Linked DNA regions of Homo sapiens: region 2 is reported to be linked to region 1. Evidence: microRNA targets listed by miRTarBase, many of them from high-throughput screens and not tested one by one. Region 1 holds a microRNA gene; the other region holds the end of a gene's coding sequence.
The links. Region 1 holds the annotated microRNA hsa-miR-1183 (CACUGUAGGUGAUGGUGAGAGUGGGCA, at 1,673-1,699, shown strand). A microRNA usually pairs through its seed, bases 2 to 8, with sites in the 3' UTR of a target mRNA and lowers its output. Matches are read on the target gene's strand: a 7mer-m8 pairs with bases 2 to 8, a 7mer-A1 pairs with bases 2 to 7 and ends in A, and an 8mer does both.

Region 1 (5,177 bases):
AGAAACTTAAAGTGTATGTGTTTGTAATACTAAACTATTTATTTTCATCAAAATAGGTAGAAAGGGAGAAATCTTAGCCTATTCCCTAAATGGCAAGTTTAGTTATAATTTTTTTTTTTTTTTTTTTGAGACGGAGTCTTGCTCTGTCGCCCAGGCTGGAGTGCAGTGGTGAGATCTCCACTCACTGCAACCTCCGCCTCCCGGATCCAAGTGATTCTCTTGCCTCAGCCTACCAAGTAGCTGGGACTACAGGTGCCCGCCACCACACCCGGCTAATTTTTTTGTATTTTTAGTAGAGACAAGATTTCACCATATTGGCCAGGCTAGGACTAGTTGGTCTCAAACTCCTGACCTTGTGATCCACCTACCTCGGCCTCCCAAAGTGCTGCAATTACAGTCATGAGCCACCATGCTGGGCCTATAATTTTTTAGAGTTAATATTTTTATAATACTCTTTTCAAAAAAAAAACACCTTGCTGAATGTAGATAGCAAATGTCATAGGAGAAATCTGATACCTGAGAGAGTAGTACATAGTTTCAGAACCAAGGTTGAGAGTTATGCTCTGGGATCTGCTTCTAAATGATCTGACTGCCATATCAGTGAGTCAGGGAGGAAGTGTAGCAGATATCCACTTGATTTGGTTTCTTACTGTCTTGTCACCCATGTGCATGTGTATTGTAAACTAGCTGTCATTTAGCAGCCCTGTGATATACTGCTGGCCGAGTTTCGTAAGAAAGCTTCTATGTTTGTATAGATTTTAGATTATCATTCGCTTTATTTAAGAAACATTCATTAAGTACTTTCAGTGTGTCAGGAACCTTGGTAGCCAAAGGACAAATGACATAAAAACCACACAGATGGCCTCTTTCTTGAGCAGCTTTTGTTGGAAATAATTTATGACTAATATTATGATGGAGTGAGATGGTGTCTTACTAGTAAGACCAGAAATACTTAAATTCTAATTCAACCAATTCTTGAGATCCCTTAGGGAGCTAGGTATACCAAAATTCAAGTTAGAATTTGTTGGCTTAGGCATAGGCCCCTGCCTCACAATCCAGAGAACTAGGTTATTCTATATGGAATATGCCTTTTTCCTTTACCAGCTAAACCTGACTTTCCTTTCTACGTGTTAGCTTAAATTCAAGTCGTCTCAAATTTTACTACTCTACTAAGGCAAAAAACTACTGGTACTAAAAGAAAATGAGCAAGAAATGTCCAACAAGCTAGATCTTGTTGAATAGTTAGCAATTCAGATGTCTTACTACCTACCAACAAACTGTCCCCCTCCATTACCTTGGCCCAGTTTCTATATTTGGAAAAAAAAAAAAAAAAAAAAGCAGAACAAAAAAGGAATAAGAAAGATGGCTTGGCTGCTCCAAGCAGCCTTGGAATGTTTTACCTCTGGTAATGTGGAAGAAAAATAAAAGAACGGCCATCCTCAGTCTGTTTCACCATAATGTGTAGTTACAATACCAAGAAATTTTGAGTTATTAAAAAAATTATTTTACAAAGCAGTTTCATTGGTAAGAAGGATTAAAGACTAAAATCTGTAAGATGAATAGACTTTTGTCAGACCAAGGGAGATGGAGGTTTGGGGTGGGAGAATGTGTTGGATTCCAGCTATATTATTCAAATGCTCGGAGACACAGAACATTAGAGAAGACAGGAGTTCACTGTAGGTGATGGTGAGAGTGGGCATGGAGCAGGAGTGCCAAGAGATGAAGTTATAAAACTAAGCAGGAGTTAGATCATGAAGAACTTTATGTACTATGCTAAGAAATACTGACCTTATTGTGAATGTATGGAGGGCCCATTGGCTTTTTGGGGAGCTAGGTCTGCAATATGAATATTAGAAGGGGCAAAACTGGTGATAAGGGCTTGCACTAGTGTACAAGCAATAGGTATGGTGAAAATGGAGACATTTGAGATATTTTGAAGAGGTAGACTTAACAGGGACTTATGATCAACATAGATAATGTATATGGTGGAAAGAGAATAGCTTTTTGAGTTGGATAAGTGTGGGTTCAAATCCCAGCTCTGTCACTTTTCCATTTTAGGATCTTGGATGTTTTACATACCCCTGAGAACCTTAGTTTTCTCATCTTAATTGGGACAGTAAGCTGGGTGCCATGGCTTGTGCCTATAGTCCCAGCTACTTGGGAGGCTGAGGCAGGAGGATCACTTGAGGTCAGGAGTTTGAGTGTAGCGTGGGCAACATAGTGAGACATAATCTCTAAAAGAATTTTAAAAATTAACTAGGTGTGGTGGCATGCATCTGTAGTCCCAACTACTCAGGAGGCTGAGGCAGGAGGATTGCTTGAGTCCAAGAGTTAGAGGCTACAGTAAGCCATGATTGTGCCGCTGTACTCTAGCCTGGGCAAGAGAGCAAGACTCCATTTATTAAAAATAAAAATTTGGGACAGTAATATTTAGCCCATAGGGATGTGAAACAATATATGGAAAACATCCAGTAAAGTGCCTTACCACATAGTAGATATAAAACAATAGTTGCTCTTGTTGTCAGGGTGAAGGAGATAGAGAGGAATCAAGAATGACTTCCAAATTTTCTATTTGAATGGTGAAAAAGAGCTATATTAGGAAAGTGGGCTAAGCTATCTGGTTCTTAGATTGCTTGTGAGGATTCAGGTGGAAGTGTTCACTGGCAGTTGATAGTAAGAGTATGACACTTCTGAGTGGAAGGCACAGATCTGTGAGTTAATCAGCTTACACATAGCAGTAAAAGTTATGAAAGTAGATGAGGTCCCCCAAGAAGAGAGTTAGAATGAGAAGTCAGAACCCTGGAGAGTGGCCTAGGAAGAGTAGAGGGTGTATTTTGTTTGATTGTTTGTTTGTTTGTTTGTTTTTGAGAGGGACTTTCTCTGTCACCCAGGCTGAAGTTGAAGTACAGTGGTGCCATCACGGCTCACTGAAGTCTTGATCCCCAGGGCTCAAGTGATCCTCTCACCTCAGCACCTCATTCTCATGAGTAGCCAGGACTACAGGCACATGCCACCATGCCTGGCTAATTTTTTAATTTTTTTAAGAGATGGCATCTCACTGCGTTGCCTAGGTTGGTCTTGAACTCCTGGGCTCAAGCAGTCCTCCTGCCTCGGCCTCCCAAAGTGCGGGGATTACAGGTGTGAGCCACTGCACCTGGCTGATAAATCTTTTCAGAAAGTGACATAAATTTAGATTTAAGTGCTGATTTTAAAAAATTGCTAAGGCCATGCATGGTGGTGCATGCCTGTAATCTCAGCTACTTGGGAGACCAAGGCAGGAGAATTGCTTGAGCCCTGGAGTTCAAGACTGGTCTGAACAGCAGAGTGAGACCCCCATCTCTTAAAAAAAAAGAAAAAAAAAAGCAACCAAACAAAAAGGAGCTAACAGAGAAGAAGGGGTTTCTGAAATGTAGGAAGTTAGCTCACAGAGTCAAAATTGAATAAGGATGGAGTGGCGAGTGGTGTCAAATGCAGCAGAGCAGTCCTGTAATGGTCACTGAAAAAATGCACAATAGATTTGGTCATTAGAAGGAAGACTGTGAACCAGGAGCTGAGTAAGTCCTTGTGGTAGAGTGCTTTGAATGCCAGACTTTGGTCGGTGGAAGAATGATTAAATGTTATTGAGCACGAAAGTGAGATGATCAGAACACTACTTTTTTATTTTTCTGGCAGCAGTGTGAAGGATGAGAAAGGAGGGAAAGCTCAATTTAGGTTGGTAGAGGCACAGATTGAACAAGGGCTTGGATCAAGATGATAATCTTGCTTGGAAACAGGTTAGCGTAAGAGCTGTTAGGCAGTAGTGTCTTCAAAATTTGGTCATCACTGGATGTAATGAGTAAAGAAGTAGCCTAAAAGATGACATTTTAAGGTTTTCAGTGTGGATAACAAGGAGAATAGGGGTAGCATTTACTGAAACAGGGACATTAGCAGAAGCAAGACTGGAAGATGAAATCATTTTTTATTTTTAAACTTTGATTTATTAAGCATATGCTATTGAGTGGCACTGTTATTGAGTTATTAGGCACTGTTACGGTACTAGAGATACAGCAGTGAACATAATAGGCAAGATCCCTACTTTCATGGCACTTTACCTTCAGAAGTGAGGTGAAGACCAAATTATAAAAGGACAAAGTAATTTAAGACAAATAAGACAAAACTAGGTGATGATACAGTGATATATTGAGGGGAGCTTTTAGATGGGATGGTCAGGAATGGCATTTCTAAAGAGGAGAGATTTGAACTCAGACCAGAATATTACAAAGGAATCAACTATGCAAAGATCTGGGTGCAAAGGCATCCCCACTTAGACTGGAGAGTATATGCAAAGTCCCTAAGAAGGAAATGAGCTTGATTTATTTGAGGGCCAGAAGAGAGGCCAGTATATCAGGTGCAGAGTGAGCAAGGGAGAGACTAATAGAGATGAGCTCTGAGAAGTCAATAGAATTAAACTTAAGTGGGGCCTCGGAGGTCTTGCTCTGGAGTTTGGTGGCTTACTGATGGCAGTGGAAATAAAGCAGTATGTTGAACTTAGCTGTCTGTGAAACATCTAGATGAAGTCAATTAACGGGCTTCAATATACAAACTCAAATATAATTTGCCTCTGTTATTCATTGAAATAACTTTCCAAGTTGTTTAGGCATTGAACAAAGAAATGCTCACAATATGGAGGCTTGAGGAGTGTGTCAAGGACATGGTCAGGGGACCAGAGGGATCAGGAATCTCTAGCAGTTCTTCCCCACCCCTCACCCCCAGACTTAGCTTTGACTTGAAACTCATCTAGCAGTTCTTTACCAAAATAAAGGTCATCTTAAATATTATTGCGACCTTTAAAGTAATGACTGTTATATAAATGTTATGAGAAAAGTAGTCAGAGAATCACGGCCAAAAATACCTGTGTCTTCAGGGGATGTAAAGGGTACTTACCAACTTAAAATACCTGCAGCTCCATAGGGACCATGCTGTAGATTTTGTATAGTGCTTGTTCAGACAGTACTCTCATTTCTAGAAATGCATTTTTTGCAGTAAACAAAGTGTGTGTATCACTGTGCTTCTTGGTACACAAGTAGTTTGAATAGATTTTGTAGCCAAGGTCATCCTTAAGCCATCTAGTTTTACTGAATACATGTTCAAAAACACTGAAACAAAATAATTATACCTTTTGTTTATGTATTGCTTTA
Region 2 (5,000 bases), not on the chromosome of region 1:
GGTGCAGACACGCACCTGCAACGTCCTAACTTTCCTTAGAAGCAATTTGGAACTATCAACCACAATATATTTATCCAAAGTCCCTATAAACTAAGACTTTCTGGCATCCTTTATCTTGAAGTTGAACCAACTGAAAACACCCTTTGACTCCTCTTCTGCCTGTCCTACTGATGTCTATCACCTTCTCCTGCCTGATCCCAGCCCCACCAGAAGGTCATAAGCGAAGTGGCCTTCTCAGAATGCAGCTGCTGAAGGTTCAGCCACACAGAATCCATCCAGGAGCCTCAAGCAGCCAGACCTGTAGGTACCACATTTTTTCCCACAGACCCTATTCTGAAAGATTTGGTCTAGCAAGTTTATTAATATGTTTCCCATTTAAAATAATCAAAGCATATCTGACTGCCAATTAGAGCTCCCAAGCAACAGAAGATAACTAGTATTGCCACACTGACTTGCTAGTATTTCAACCCAGAAACAAAATGCATTTTAGCCAGGTGCAGTGGCTCACGCCTATAATACTAGCACTTTGGGAGGCTGAGGGGGAAGGATCACTTGAGCCCAGAAAGTTGAGGCTGCAAGTGAGCTATGATTGTGCCACTGCTCTCCAGCCTGGGTGACACAGCCAGACTTTGTCTCAAAGAAAGAAAGAAAAAAAGAAAGAAAGAAAGAAGAAAGAAAGAGAGGGGGGGAGGGGAGGAGAGGGGAAGGGAAGGGAAGGGAAGGGAGAAAGAAAGAAAAAGAAAGAAAGAAAGAAGGAAAGAAAGAAAAAGAAAGAGAGAGAAAGAGAGGGAGGGAGGAAGAGAGAGCGAAAGAAAGAAAGAAAGAAAGAGAAAGAAAGGAAGGAAGGAAGGGGAAGGGAAGGGAAGAAGGAAGGGAGGAAGGGAAGGGAAGGAAGGAAGGGAGAAAGAAAGAAAAAGAAAAGAAAGAGAGAGAGAGGGAGGGAGGGAGAGAGAGGGAGGGAGGGAGGGAGGGGGAGAGAGAGAGAGAGGGAGAGAGAGAGGGAGGGAGGGAGAGAGAGAGAGAGAGAGAGAGAGAGAGAGAAGCATCTTAATAAGCCAGCACTGCCTGATTCTGAAAATATTTGCTTCTGCCTGCCACCTTTCTCCCCACTACACTGCTCCAACCTGAACTCACCCTGGAATCTGGCACAGCATTGAAGACTCGCTGGGTTGCCCTCCCAGCAAAGCAGCCAATTTATCTGTGATCTGAAATTACATCAAATTTCCAAGGACTGTGAAAAACATTTCCCATGAGCAAGAAGTTAATTTATTTGCACTGGGAAATGAATGGTTCCCTTTGCTTTCCTGACCCTCCCATAAGCACCAGGAAACAACATTAAGTGACCCTGAAAAGAGACCCCAGACAGAGCCTTCACTTATTTAAGATGGCCTCAAATCAGCCATGTGTGACAGAAGACATAAATTCTCCAGTCCACGATATACGGTCTGGGGATTCTTTAAGCTGAGGTGCAGCATCTATTTGAATGCATTCCCTTTTGAGAAATGATTGGGTCATGTTCAGTTGCACATGTCATACTTTGGGAGAGGAGTGCTGAAATTGTGTATTTGGAGCAAATTTAACAAACTTCTTTATGCAATCATAGGTAAGAAAGTAATCATTTAAAAACAGATAGTGGAGTTCATTGTGTTAGGACAGGCTACAAGAAGCCCCCTCTGTCTTCTGCCCACTGTAATTTGTTTCATAAAAACTAGAATTCTTTTTAGAATTGGAAGGAGCAATATTTGAGATTATCCCAGAAAAAGGGTCATTTGGAAGCCCCAAAAAGAAAAATTCATTTTCCAATCAAACCATATTAACTTTAACAACTCCCAACCCACCAAAAAGCACTCAAAGTAATGAGAACCATAAAAGGAGGGAGGAAAACAGACATCAGTTCGTGGGGATAATAATTTTCTTCTGTTGTCAGAACAGCCTTGTTCTATTATAAAACAATCAGCTCTCATGCATCCTCCCTCCATTTCTGCAACCCCCTGGATTAGAGGGAGTCTTTCATTTCACTCTTCTTGGCCTTGTTGAAGAAGCACAGGTGACCCACAGGACATCACTCTTACAGACCATAAACTTCTGATATTCCAGGTAGTCAGACATTATTCAAAGGATCTATGTTGCAAATCATGCCACTCTCTTTCAAAGTCAAGTTAGTACTTAATATGTGCCAGGTATTGTGCTAAGCACTTGGCATGGACTATCTCACTTAATCCTGTGATTTATATACTATTTGCCTTTATTTTATATTAGAAAGATGAGAGCTGGATAACTTGCCCAAGGTCACAGAGCTTATCCACGGCCAAGCAGGGAATTGAAGCCTAGTGATCTGCCTGCATACCCAACACTCTTAACCATTGTTCTGGCCCACCTTATGATATCAGGGTGCACGTGGGCCTTACTGAATTACCCAGAAACACACACACACACACACACTGGCTATGGACACTGTCCCTCTATAGAGTAGCATTCACCAGGACTAAGGAAGACATTCCTTCTCTTGAAAGATTCAGACTGAACCCCATAGAATGACTGTAATAAGTGCATGAAAAGAAGTAAAAAAATACTGTACACTCAGGGAGCCACAGTTAAAGGCCATCATTCTGTATTGTGAAACACCTCCTGATTTCCTGAAATCTACTCAACAATGAAGAAAATACAAAGAGGCCACTGGAATCATTTCTACCTATCTTCTGTTGGGGGTAACGTCTGCAACCTCAGGTGAGCTTTGAGACTTCAAGGCACGTTGCAAAAGGAAAAAACTGAAAGGAAATCGCCCTGTTCGTGGGCCAGAATATATTTCATTCACAAAGAAAAAAAATCTGAACTTTCTGGAATATTTTTAAGCATTGTTCCCAAACAAAATGCTTATCATCTCAAATATAATAATACTGAGTCCTTCCCACTTATAAAAACTGTCCCCAATGCACATGGAGAGTAGTAACTAACCCCATGTGTCAACTTCAAATAAGCCAAGGTATAAAAGGTACAAAACGGCTCCAAAAGGACTATGCTTTGAAAGGAAGGCCTTAAAGCATTTTGCAAACTTCACGTGCACTTGTTTTATATGAATATCTATAGTCACATACAGCATAAAAAGAAAGCTTTGAAAAGGGAAGGAACTCACTGTACAGAAGACAAAACAATACCCTTTTTATTTTTAAAACTCTGGTGAAATAGGTTTCCATAGGACATCCCATTCAAAAAAAAAAATTAATGTAAACCAACCTGCCTGTGGGTTAGTCACACTATACAGACTTCATCAGAGTGTTTACAGATACCTAGAGTATTTACAAATGCTATCCGTTAGGTAGTAAAGTGTTGTTGCAATTTTTCCAGCACATATTCCACAGTAAAATAAAGGGGGTATATTGGTGTTCTTGTATAAAAATTCTTAACAAATAGAGAAAGGCAATTTTCCTGAGAGAAGATTTGTTCTTGAAATATTTTTCTTTAACAATTGGAAATATAAAATGGGATGTAGTTGTAAAAGAAGCATAAGAATGTCTAAGTTAACATTTTTCTTTTAAATTATTTTAAGTACCATTAAGTTAAAATGTTTACATTCATTATAAAAAATGCTGTTAAATCTTATGCAAATGATTTAACACTGATTGCTGCAACGCAAATTGCACTTTTTAAAAAAATTATTGTATACATGGAAGAAAAATATCTTGTTTGCTACCCTGTTTACAAATTCCGACTGACTTCAGATCAGCCACACAATATGAACTTTGAGAAACGTCAGTCACAGTGTATGTTAAAGTTACAATGCAGTCTTGCAAACTGAGTAATATTTTTGATAAGAGACCTCATGAACCGACTCAGCCTCCAGAGATGTGTACCAAATGGCCTCAAGTGATCTTCTCCATGAACGCACATGAAATCTGGATGTGGAAAAGGTATGAAGAAATTCTGGAACAACCAAAATTGATCAGAAGAAGCACATGATTTTGGACAAAATGCAAAATCTTTTTTAAAAAATCTCTCTCAATATTCCATAGCAGGCAAGGCCCAGGTCCTAGTCCTGGCTTCTGGAAGTGGAGCAGGGTCCGCCCCGGAGGCGGGCTGGCTGGAGTGGCCCAAGCGCCCAGTTGCACTGGCCCTTCCCTTCCATCTTCTCTCACTCTTTCAGCAAGCCTCTTGGGAAAAACATCTCTTTCAAAATAAAGGCACGAGAATCACGTTCTGTCAGCGCAGTCGCCACTGTCTGGACCGCTGCACAAAAGCAGACACGAGTGGAGTGAGGCCCGCGGCGGAGCCCTCCCTGCCTCCTGGCGGCGTGGGCTCAGGCCAGGGCCAGGGCGCACCAGGAATCCGGTCGCACGGAGGACGTGACTTCGGCCGGCGAGGCGAGACTGACGCCTATGTAGAGCCCATCTTGACCCGAATACTTGAGCTCGCTGTTCTCGGGATTGGTGCTCTCTCCCGCACCAGTCATCACCGGGGCACCCGCCTGGCAGAAGAGGGGGACACAGAGGAGAGACGAGAAGGTGAGAAGCGGTTACAATCCTGGTAGTGAAATACATGGGAGCTAATGAACGGGTCTGTGCAGCCAGGGCCAGAGCTGCTCCTGGGCAGACCCAGGGCAGGAGAAATGAAGCCGGCGTTACTATCCCCTGCCCCCAGCAAGTGGGGGCCTTTCCCTGCATTGCACACAGTGCCACTGACCTGACCCTGGCCACTTAAGCCTTCGAAACTTTAGAACTCAGGGCAGGAGCCACTGGCAAGATGCAAAGCTGGACAAAAGGAAGGGGAACTGAAGAAATCCTATTTGTAAAAAGTGCCAAGCTCTAAGATCTCTGACTGTGAAACAAACCTCACTGTGTGGGTGAATAGGCATTAATGATGCACACACAACCTGATCATTTCCAAAGAGAAAATGCAGAGCGCACGCATGCGTGCGCGCGCACACACACACACACACACACACACTCTAACAAGGCTTATCCAGTGATGGCAAAGTCTTTTTAGACTTTTTAGAAAAGCTGCAC

Region 2: the mRNA of GATA6 is a reported target of hsa-miR-1183. The part of its 3' UTR that is shown has no 7-base or 8-base seed match.

Annotation. Positions count from the first base shown.
Region 1 is chr7:21,469,433-21,474,609 of GRCh38, forward strand. It overlaps MIR1183 (microRNA 1183), which reads left to right and starts at 1,626; the gene lies at 1,626-1,714. All of the region lies in intron 3 of SP4 (Sp4 transcription factor), which reads left to right.
Region 2 is chr18:22,200,118-22,205,117 of GRCh38, reverse strand. It overlaps GATA6 (GATA binding protein 6), which reads right to left. Exons shown (of 7, transcript NM_005257.6): 7 at 2,590-4,462. The coding sequence ends at 4,295. Among named protein-coding and RNA genes, the nearest start is that of GATA6, 33 kb to the right of the region's middle.